Linked DNA regions of Homo sapiens: region 1 is linked to region 2. The links come from fine-mapping of genetic effects on gene expression. A gene starts in region 2. The other region holds a variant in brackets. All regions are shown on one strand. Distances are between the middles of the regions.

Region 1 (5,385 bases), 44 kb before region 2:
ATGCCTCTGGAATGCGAATGTTCCCAGGCATTGTCCAGACTCTCAAATTTCAGCTATGTTTAACTAGAAAAGATGATGCCAAACAACAATTATCAGGAACAATCAAATGCAGACAGTTTAGTAAATAACTCGCCTAGACCAATTTTCCCTGCCAGAAATTCAGCATTTGATTATGCTTTCAATTTAGATTTTTGCCTCTTTGTACTCCAGGGGTAGGTCAGGGCATGCAGTGGACAGTCAATAAATACATCCTAAAGAAATGAATTTTGTACCAGCTCTACATTCTAGGATAACAGGTCTGCTCAGAAAACAAATGGTGTCAGTTGGACCCATTCTGTTGGGCTACCCTAACAGAATACCACAGACTAGGTGGCTTAAACAACAGAAATTTATTTTCTCAGGATTTAGCCAACATAACCAGGCTTAAAATGCAGTTGTAAGAAGGAAGTCGTGAGGGAGTGCTGACTTTGATAGATAGCCCCAATAAAAGCCCATCATTCATTCAACAAATGTTTACCAAGTCCCAACCACAAAGTGCTGATGGTGCAGAAAGGAACAAGGTACAATTTTTCTCACAAAAAGTTGTCTGATGTTGGGAGACACACAATAAACATCTAATTCCAATTCATTGTGTTCAGCACTAGGTCACAGTTCAGTGGCAAGGAACCACTAACTCTACCTGGAAGAGTCATAAAAAAGAAGAGGACACATGGGCCTGGCACCAGAAGGACTGCCAATGTTGCATCTGGTAACTCAATGTGTCATTTACCTAGGGCAGTACTGGGTTGCCTAAATAGTCAGATGCCTAGGGCATTAGCAAAGCTGGGGTAAAACAAAAATGTAAATCAACTTTACATTATATATAAAACAAGAGAAAATAAGAAGTTGGTTAAATTTTGTTCCATCTATTTTATGGTGCAATATCATTTTATTCTGAATTACATATGGGGTAGGAAGAGGTGGGCATAACTTTTTCTAAAGTATATGTATTCTGGCCAGGTGTGGTGGCTCATGTCCGTAATTCCAGCCCTTTGGGAGACTGAGGCAGGAGGCTCACTTGAGCCCAGGAGTTACTTGAGCCTGGGCAACATGGTGAGACCCCATGTCTACAAAAGATTTTTAAAAAATGTTTAAAAAGTATCCATATTCTGAAAAACAATACACATACACAAAATTGCATAAAGTATAAATGTACAACTAAAAGTTGTTATAAAGTAAACACTATGTAACCATCACCCAGGCAAGAAATAGAACATTGTCTGCAGCATCCCAGGAGCACCACTGCAGACGGCCAGGTGTCTTGGTTTGCCTTGGACTGTTCCACTTTTAGCACAGAAAGGCTCAAATCCCAAGGAAACTCCTCCCTGGGATGTGAAAAGTCTCAATTTTCTGTGATGGGTACAGAAGATTGGGGGAAAAGCACAAAACCCATATGGTGACCCGCCCCCCCCGCCCAAATAGGGAGTGAAAACAGCAGTTTGTAATGTGAAATGGATATGGCATAGATTCTCTGCCTTCTGTAGTTGCTGTGGCCATTTTTTTTGCCCCAACTGCTGATATTGACAACCATGATTTGCAGCTCACAATAATGATCATCCATTGTTGCATCACGGTGACTGATGCCACTTTAGCATGCAACTTAAGTGCATTGAAATTGTGAGCATTAACAAGCTCGCCTTTGTATTTGCCTGTGGATCAACTGTTGTAATTTGTATCAAGGTTGTTTAACCTTTCACATCATGAATATTGTGACCATGTGCATTAGTTTGCTAGGGCTACCATAACAGAATACCACAGACTAGGTGGCTTAAACAACAGAAATGTATTTTCTCACAGTTCTGGAAGCTGACAATCCAAGACCAAGGTGCCAGCAGGTTTGGTTTTTTCTGAGGCTTCTCTCCTTGGCTTGCAGATGGCAACCTTCCTTCTGTGTCCTCACAGGTCTTTCCTTTGTGCTTGTGAATCCCTGGTGTCTCTGTGTGTGGAAATTTCCTCTTTGTATAAGGACACTGGACAGATTAAATTAGGGCCCACCCTAATAGCCACATTTTAACGTAATCACCTCTTTAAAGGCCCTATTTCCGAATACTGTCACATTCTGAGATACTTGGGGCTAAGGTTTCAGCATATGACTTTTTGGGGGACACAATTCAACCATAACACCATGTTTTGTAAGAATGCAGATAACAGGTGGGAAAATTGCTTGAGCCCAGGAGTTCGAGACCGAGAGTTCGAGTTCGAGATCAGCCTACCCAACATAGTGAGACACTGTCTCAACAAAAAATAGAAAAATTAACCAGGCGTGGTGGCGCATGCCTGTAGTCCCAGCTACAGAGGTGAAAGGGGAAGGATCAATTGAGCCTGGAAGGTAGAAGCTGCAGTAAGCCGAGAATGCTCCACTGCACCCCCAGCCTGGGTGACAGGGTGAGACCCTATCTCAAAAAAAAAAATGAAGTTTCATATTATCTTCTTGATTTCAATGAAGATATTAATAAAACCACAGAAAATATGAAAAAATACAAACGAGACTTTTCTCATTTATCTGTATGTTTAGCAGACAGCATAAATGTCAATTGTGTGGAATTCCATTC[A/G]GTCTATAAACTTTTTATTGAAATAAATGAAAAGACCTTACCTGCTAAATGTCATGCACACCTTGTACACAATCCTGCTAAAGACAGATACATTCTGCTTATCTATAAAATTAAAGGTTTTATAATGAAAGTTTTTGATGACTTTTTAATTTCTTCAAAATATGCAGAAGTATGTAGTGAGTTTTTTTTTACTTTATAGAAATGGGAGGAGATAGCCTCCTTAACAGGTGCCTACAATATCTATCATTGTTGCCAGCCATAGGAAAAAAAATGTTAAAATGTCAGCCTGCCATAAAACCATAATTTCAAAGTGCGGTATGAGAAGAATGTCCTTCTGTAATTTGGAAATACATTGAGAATAAAAATGGAGAAAAGGATGACAATAAAACAGAAATTTATCAGCTGTTCCTCTAAAACTGTTTGAAGACCATTGAAGAGGTCATATGGAGCCTCGGAAAGAATGGACTCATTACAGCTGAGCTGTTCCATGTTATGAGTAGATCTCAACAAAAAACCACATGGCAAAAAATGACTCATTCATGCAGACATCGTAAGACTGCTTCAGAACAACAACAAAAAAAGTTACCAGGAAAAGGCAACAACATGAAATAAGACTTCATCAATTTCTCTAATAAAACTGTAACTTATTTGGAATCCAACTGGATTCCTATAGCAATCAAAAAGTTCAAATTACTTCTGCCCCTTGGGACCATTTTCCCTTTGAAAGAGAAGTTTAGCTTGTGGTAACATCTATTTATTGGGAGTTACGTAAGGAAAAACTCTCCACAAACTGTGTTCTTCCTCTACTCTCACCACCACCAAAATCATCAACACAGAAAACTTCTGTGACCAAATGTAGAGGGAGGTTTCCCCACACACCAACAGTGGACACCAGCTGGGTATCCTCTGATTCTCCAAAAAGATAGTGTCAGATCCTACAGGTTGGGGGATCAGTCCCCAAGACTGCCCTCCCCACACCAGTTGCAAGTCTGGGCCTCCAGAACTTCTGGCCTACCTACCGGCTTCAAGTTGGGGTTCCCATGATCCCCTCTTTCATTTGATTAATTTGCTGGAGTGGCTCATAAAACTTAGGGAAACACATTTACCGGTTTATTATAAAAGATATTGCAAAGGATACAGATGAAGAGAGTACAGGGTGAGCTATGGAGGAAAGGGTGTGGAGCTTCCCTCCCCTCCCTAGACATGCCACCCTCCAGGAACCTCCATGTGTTCAGCCCTCTGGAAGCTCACTGAACACCGTCCTCTTGTGTCCGGAATTGGTGGGTTCTTGGTCTCACTGACTTCAAGAATGAAGCCGCGGACCCTCGCGGTGAGTGTTACAGCTCTTAAGGTGGCACGTCTAGAGTTTGTTCCTTCTGATGTTCGGATGCGTTCGGAGTTTCTTCCTTCTGGTGGGTTTGTGGTCTCGCTGGCTCAGGAGTGAAGCTGCAGACCTTCGCGGTGAGTGTTACAGCTCTTAAGGCAGCGCGTCTGGAGTTGTTCGTTCTTCCCGGTGGGCTCGTGGTCTTGCTGGCTTCAGGAGTGAAGCTGCAGACTTTCGCGGTGAGTGTTACAGCTCATAAAAGCAGTGTGGACCCAAAGAGTGAGCAGCAGCAAGATTTACTGCAAAGAGCAAAAGAACAAAGCCTCTACAGTGTGGAAGGGGACCTCAGCGGGTTGCCACTGCTGGCTCCGGCAGCCTGCTTTTATTCTCTTATCTGGCCCCACCCACATCCTGCTGATTGGTAGAGCTGAGTGGCCTGTTTTGACAGGGCGCTGATTGGTGCGTTTACAATCCCTGAGCTAGATACAAAGGTTCTCCACGTCCCCATCAGATTAGTTAGATACAGAGTTTGGACACACAGGTTCTCCAAGGCCCCACCAGAGCAGCTAGATACAGAGTGTCGATTGGTGCATTCACAAACCTTGAGCTAAACACAGGGTGTTGATTGGTATGTTTACAAACCTTGAGCTAGATACAGAGTGCCGATTGGTGTATTTACAATCCCTGAGCTAGACATAAAGGTTCTCCAAGGCCCCACCAGAGCAGCTAGATACAGAGTGTCGATTGGTGCACTCACAAACCTTGAGCTAAACACAGGGTGCTGATTGGTGTGTTTACAAACCTTGAGCTAGATACAGAGTGCCGATTGGTGTATTCACAAACCTTGAGCTAAACACAGGGTGTTGATTGGTGTGTTTACCATCCCTGAGCTAGACATAAAGGTTCTCCAAGGCCCCACCAGAGCAGCTAGATACAGAGTGTCAATTGGTGCACTCACAAACCTTGAGCTAAACACAGGGTGCTGATTGGTGTGTTTACAAACCTTGAGCTAGATACAGAGTGCCAATTGGTGTATTTACAATCCCTGAGCTAGACATAAAGGTCCTCCAAGGCCCCACCAGACTCAGGAGCCCAGCTGGCTTCACCCAGTGGATCCTGCACCGGGGCTGCAGGTGGAGCTGCCTGCCAGTCCCGGTGCCGTGCGCACACTCCTCAGCCCTTGGGTGGTCAATGGGACTGGGCGCAGTGGAGCAGGGGGCAGTGCTCGTCGGGGAGGCTCGGGCTGCACAGGAACCCACGGAGTGGGTGGGAGGCTCAGCCATGGCGGGCTGCAGGTCCCAAGCCCTGCCGCGCGGGAAGGCAGCTAAGGCCCGGCGAGAAATCGAGCACAGCGCCGGTGGGCCGGCACTGCTGGGGGACCCAGTACACCCTCCGCAGCCGCTGGCCCGGGTGCTAAGTCCCTCATTGCCCGGGGCCAGCAGGCTGGCCGGCTGCTCTGAGGGCCGGGCC
Region 2 (5,385 bases):
CTCAGGAAGGCATTTTAAGGGGGGCTAGGATTGTCATACTAGGGAAATGGCCTTTTGGCAGCTTTGAACTGTCTCAGGAAGGCATTTTAAAAGGGCTGAGATTGTCATCCTAGGGAAATGGCCTTGAGCTGATAGAAACTACGCTGGTGTTTGTTCAAGTCTCTTAGTGTGTGTATGTATTGGGGGGCAGGTGGATGAAATTGTGCCGAAAGTTGCAGTTCTTATAGGCCAAAGTTGAGGCCTAGCTGAGAAGTGGGCTTAGAGAAGCCTGACTAAAGTTTGATCATGAAGAGGGTCTTTGTTGCTTTTCCTATACCATCCTTTTGTCAAGGGGCAACTTTTGATGATTAAAGACAAAGTTGGAGCTCCTGTGTCTGGCTCATCTCTGTGGAATATGAAGCAAAGGAAGAAAATGTTTACCTATTCTCCAAGCACAAGAAATCATATCTCTAAGAGATTAAAAATAAAACAAAACAAAAACAAAAACAAAAACTCTGTGTCTCCCAGCCCGGAAAGGAACAACCATGATTCATGCCTGGAAAATGTCTTAGTAATCCCCAGATGACAAAGAGAGAACTACTATGGATGATTAGAGCACTCTCCCAGGGCACCTGAATCCTGTCATCCTGGAGGCTAACCAGGAGCAGGTAAGGGCAGCATTTGGATGTGAAACCAATGAGCAAAATGTAAGGGAAGAATCAAGGCAGACCTGGCTCAGTCATAGGTCACGGTACATTTACTGCCTCTTCCTTCTCTTCTCGAGGCTCTCAAATTGGTCTGTACTGAGTAGAGGGGGTGGAGGGCAGGTGAGGGATAAGGGATATTCAAATAGTCAAAGTAAGGAATATATTGTATTAGTGTGTGAAGGTGTGTGAATAGTCTGCACTTAGGTTTGCCTTTAATAGCCAAATATTGAGATATTAAACACAAAAGCCTTGGTCATCATTTTTTTTCTAAGCACCATCATCTATTTTGTAACCTTGTTTATTCTACCCAAACTTCTTCTCTTTCACACAAACTTGTGAATAAGAGTGCAAATCAATACTTTAAATACACTCTCGGTTTGCATTTGGCTAGAAAAAACTATGAAGATAATAAAAATGGGACCTGCGTTTATAATATAATTATCATGAATAATGGCAAAAGGAAATTAAATGAAGTGAACCATCAGCCTTCATGAAATCACTGTCTGTCTGGTAGTCTTGCTGGGTGTCTTCCAGCCTCAGATTTAGCCTACCTTTTATGTGATGACACAATGACCATTTAGAAAATGGGCAGTGATGCCAATGATTATCAGACATCATTTACTGTGGACCAATATAATTGGGAACACCACTTCTTTTTCTCCTGATTTGGTTTTCCTGCCATGAGAGTACACAATGACATTTAGAGCAGCTTCATGCAACCATACTAAAGTGAAAAATTAGTCATTTTGAACATCTTGGCAGTGGAACTGTATAATTACTTCTGTCAAGTGTTTGTGTTTTGTCTGCATTGTACATATTTTTTCTTTCCTATGAGTGATTGGAGGAGTGGAGGGGGAAAATAAAGGACTTTTAAAGTCTATAAACATTATCATAAAAAAATTTCAGGGGGCAACTGCTAAAGATAAGTGGAGTCTTAGGAATGTTAGGGGTTCTTTTATAGGCAGGGGCTTAATTAGGCAGCTAAAGTTCTGTTCCATAACCTTGCGGTAGAAAATGACTTATGGCTAATTTTGAGGGGTGGGCTTGGCTTGGCAGTGGCTATTTCTGGTCAGGCTCTTCCCTTTTATAATTATGAAATTTCCTTCCCCTGATTTCCTAGAACATTTGCTTATTGTCAGGATAATTCATCTGACATTTACTAAATCTGGCCTTGTAGAGTTAATTACCTTTTCCTATTCCTAGATTACCTACATTGCAAGCCTAGAAGGTTATCTATCTCTTTTTCATTGCATCCACCACAATACTGGGCACACAGGTGGGCTCAAGACACAAGGTTTTGGAATTTTTAGGGCAGAAAACATAATTCAGAAATCACAGCGTCATGGGATCTGTAAAAATGACCAAAAAACTTGGTTAGCTATCTGAGTGGGCAGGCTTCTTTCCCAGAGCAGTAATTGTCACACTTTGGCGTGCATCAGAATCACCTGGAGGGCTTCAGTTTCTCATTCTACGGGTCTGGAGTGGGGACTGAGAATTTGCCTGGTACTGTGTATTACATGCATTATCTCAATTCACGCACAGCCTTATGAAATGCCTACCACTTTAATTATAAATGACTCGCTGGAGCGCAGAGGCCACGTGACTGGTGGGGGTGCTTGGCAGCACTGGCCACTTCCATCGTCTTGGGGGTGGGGGTGGCGGGGCGCGCGCGTGTGTGTGTGTGGTGATTAGCATGCCTTTTATTTCTTTCAGGGTCTGGAGATAGAAGAGAAATTCCCTGAGAAAAAGAAAAGTAGAAAGGTATTTACTCTGATCTTCTGGCCCCATCTGGTGGTTTTAAGTCTGACTAAAAAAAAAAAAAAAAAAAGCGCTGATTCGTGATCTCCCCCTGCTGGTGAGAATGGTGGGGTCAATCCGGCCGCCTCTCGTACCAGTTGTTCTGAGGTGCATTTCTGTGGAAGCATTTCCGTCATTCTGAGACAGTTGGGCTGAGGCGGTTGGTCGCCTCTCTCTCTCTCTCTCTCTGTTCCTCATCTACATTTTGATTGGTTTATTTTTGTATTGTTTTCTTTCAGTTTCCGATAGGTGGAGAACATTCTGCTAATAGCTTTTCTTCCAGTCCATTTGTGGCTTGTTAAAGGTACAACATGTATTGTCAGTCGTGACGAGAGCTTTTTGCCTTATATATTGATTATATATTATAAATATAGAAGTATATCCTGTGTCAGGCTGGAGATGTGGGAGGAAAACTGGCTGAGGGAACTAGCCTTTAATTAGTTTATTTCCTCCCTGTCAAACCAACAAACTTTTCTGGAACATCTGAAAAAATAACCTTTAAAAAGTACTTCAGGCTGACCGTGGTGGCTCACGCCTGTAATCCCAGCACTTTGGGAGGCCGGGGCGGGCAGATCACCTGAGCTCAGGAATTCGAGACCAGCTTGACCACCATGGCGAAACCCCGTCTCTACTAAAAAGACAAAAATTAGCCGGGCGTGGTAGCGCGCGCCTGTAGTCCCAGCTACTCGGGAGGCTGAGGCGGAAGAATCGCTTGAAACTGGGAGGCAGAGTTGCAGTGAGCCAAGATGGTGCCACTGCACTCCATCCTGGGTGACAGAGCAAGACTCTGTCTCAAAAGAAAAAAAAAACTTAAATATACAGTTACTTGGTGACAAAATGTTTATCCTGCCCTGCAGATAGTGTATCAGTGAATGAATGTATTAAACATTACAGCTGGGTGCAGTGGCTGCGGCAGGAGGATGGCTTGAACTGGGAGGCAAAGGTTGCAGTGAGCCAAGATGGCGCCACTGCACTCCAGCCTGGGCGACAGAGTAAGACTCTTGTCTCAAAAGAAAAAGAATTAAATAGCCAGGCGCAGTGGCTCACGCCTGTAATCCCAGCACTTTGGGAGGCTGAGGCAGGCGGATCACGAGGTCAAGAGATCGAGACCATCCTGGCCAACATGGTGAAACCCCGTCTCTATTAACAATACAAAAATTAGCTGGGCATGGTGGCATGCGTCTGTAGCTACTTGGGAGGCTAAGGCAGGAGAATCACTTGAGTCCAGGAGGCAGAGGTTGTAGTGAGACGAGATCGTGCCACTGCACTCCAGCCTGAACGACAGAGTGAGACTCTTGTCTCAAAAGAAAAAAAAATTAAATAGCTGGGCACGGTAGCTCACGCCTGTAGTGCCAGCACTTTGGGAGGCTGAGGCAGGCGGATCACGAGATCAAAAGATCGAGACCATCCTGGCCAACAAGGTGAAACCCCGTCTCTACTAAAAATGCAAAAACTAGCGGGACATGGTGGCATGCGTCTATAGCTACTTGGGAGGCTGAGGCAGGAAAATCACTTGAGCCCGGGAGACAGAGGTTGCAGTGAGCCGGGATGGCGCCACTGCACTCCAGCCTGGCGACAGAGCGAGATTCCATCTCAAAATAAATAAATAAATAAATAAATAAAATATACTATTACTTGGTAACAGCTGGGCGCTGCGGCTCACTCCTGTAATACCAGCACCTTCGGAGGCTGAGGCGGGAAGAAAGCTTGAGGGCAGGACTTTGAGACCAGCCTGGGCAACATAGCAAAACTTCCGTCTCTACCAAAAAATAAATGAAATAAAATAAAATTAGCAGTGTGTTGTGGTGCCCGCCTGTAGTCCCAGTTACTCGGGAGGCTGAGGTGGGAGGATCACTTGAGCCTGGGAGTGGGAGGTTGCAGTGAGCCGAGATCATGCCACTGCACTCCAGCCAGGACGACAGAGCAAGACTGTCTCAAAAGAAAAAATAATAAAAATGAAATATAGTATTACTTTATGACAGCTGGGCACGGTGGCTCACTCTTGTAATTCCAGCACTTTGAGAGGCTGAGGTGGGAGTATTGCTTGAAGGCAAGAGTCTGAGTTTGAGACCAGCCTGGGCAACAGAGCAAAACCTCCATTTCTACCAAAAGAAAAAAAAAATTAGCTGGGTGTGGTGGCGCGTGCCTGTAGTCCCAGTTACTCCGGAGGCTGAGGTGGGAGGATCGCTTGAGCATGGGAGGTTGATGCTGTAATGAGGAGTGATCTCGCCAACTGCACTCCAGCCTCCTGTGCCTCTTGCTCTCAAGTCAGGATGATGAATCGGGGTAATGACTTCATGTGGTCACTAGGAGGTCGCAGCTGTTGGAAAACGTATTCCCATGCAGTAGGAGAACACCCCGTAAAAAAGCCGTCTTGAGAAGGTGTTCCTCCAATTAAAAGGGAAATTGGTGATTTCTCTTGACAGAATCACTCCCCATCCTAAAAACTGCATTTTTGTGTATGTCGTATTTATTGATACATTTCCTTAATATTTCCATTATGAAGATATGTATAGGTTCAAGGAAGGCAGTAACTGTCTCTGTGTACAACCTAGCAGTGGCTCATGTGCTTAGACACTCAGTAACTCTTGGTGATGTTGAGATGATTATGACAATAGTGATGGTGTTGATTATAAGAGTGGACTCAATCATTTGTGTCTTCTGAAATTCTCAACAGTTTTACATTCACCTAGTGAATTTATAAATTCACATATCACATTCTGCCTTGTGGTGTATTTGTTTCATTATGAGCTTTATCTTTCCAAAAACAGGACTTCTTGAAGAGAATGACTGTGTTTTGCCCATTTTCACTTACCCTGCTAAGGGTAGCACAGGTTCATATATATTAGCAAATGCCTAATGATATTTACATAATTGAAAATAAGTGGTAATGGTTCTTCAA

Which allele goes with the higher level. Alleles are on the strand shown, and positions count from the first base shown. SD is a standard deviation of normalised expression in the study named.
For the expression in testis of the gene that starts at base 2,602 in region 2, allele A in region 1 goes with a higher level than allele G (small effect, 0.18 SD a copy in GTEx).

What was found. PIP is the estimated chance that this variant, and not a neighbour inherited with it, causes the effect. A credible set is the group of variants that fine-mapping cannot tell apart.
Region 1: its variant is the best candidate, but not a certain one, in a credible set for the expression of CCNB3 in testis (GTEx, PIP 0.82).

What each region holds. Positions count from the first base shown.
Region 1 is chrX:50,158,249-50,163,633 of GRCh38, forward strand. No RefSeq gene overlaps it. Among named protein-coding and RNA genes, the nearest start is that of AKAP4, 40 kb to the right of the region's middle. The variant A/G (reference allele first, on the strand shown) is at 2,592.
Region 2 is chrX:50,202,164-50,207,548 of GRCh38, forward strand. It overlaps CCNB3 (cyclin B3), which reads left to right and starts at 2,602. Exons shown (of 13, transcript NM_033031.3): 1 at 2,602-2,787.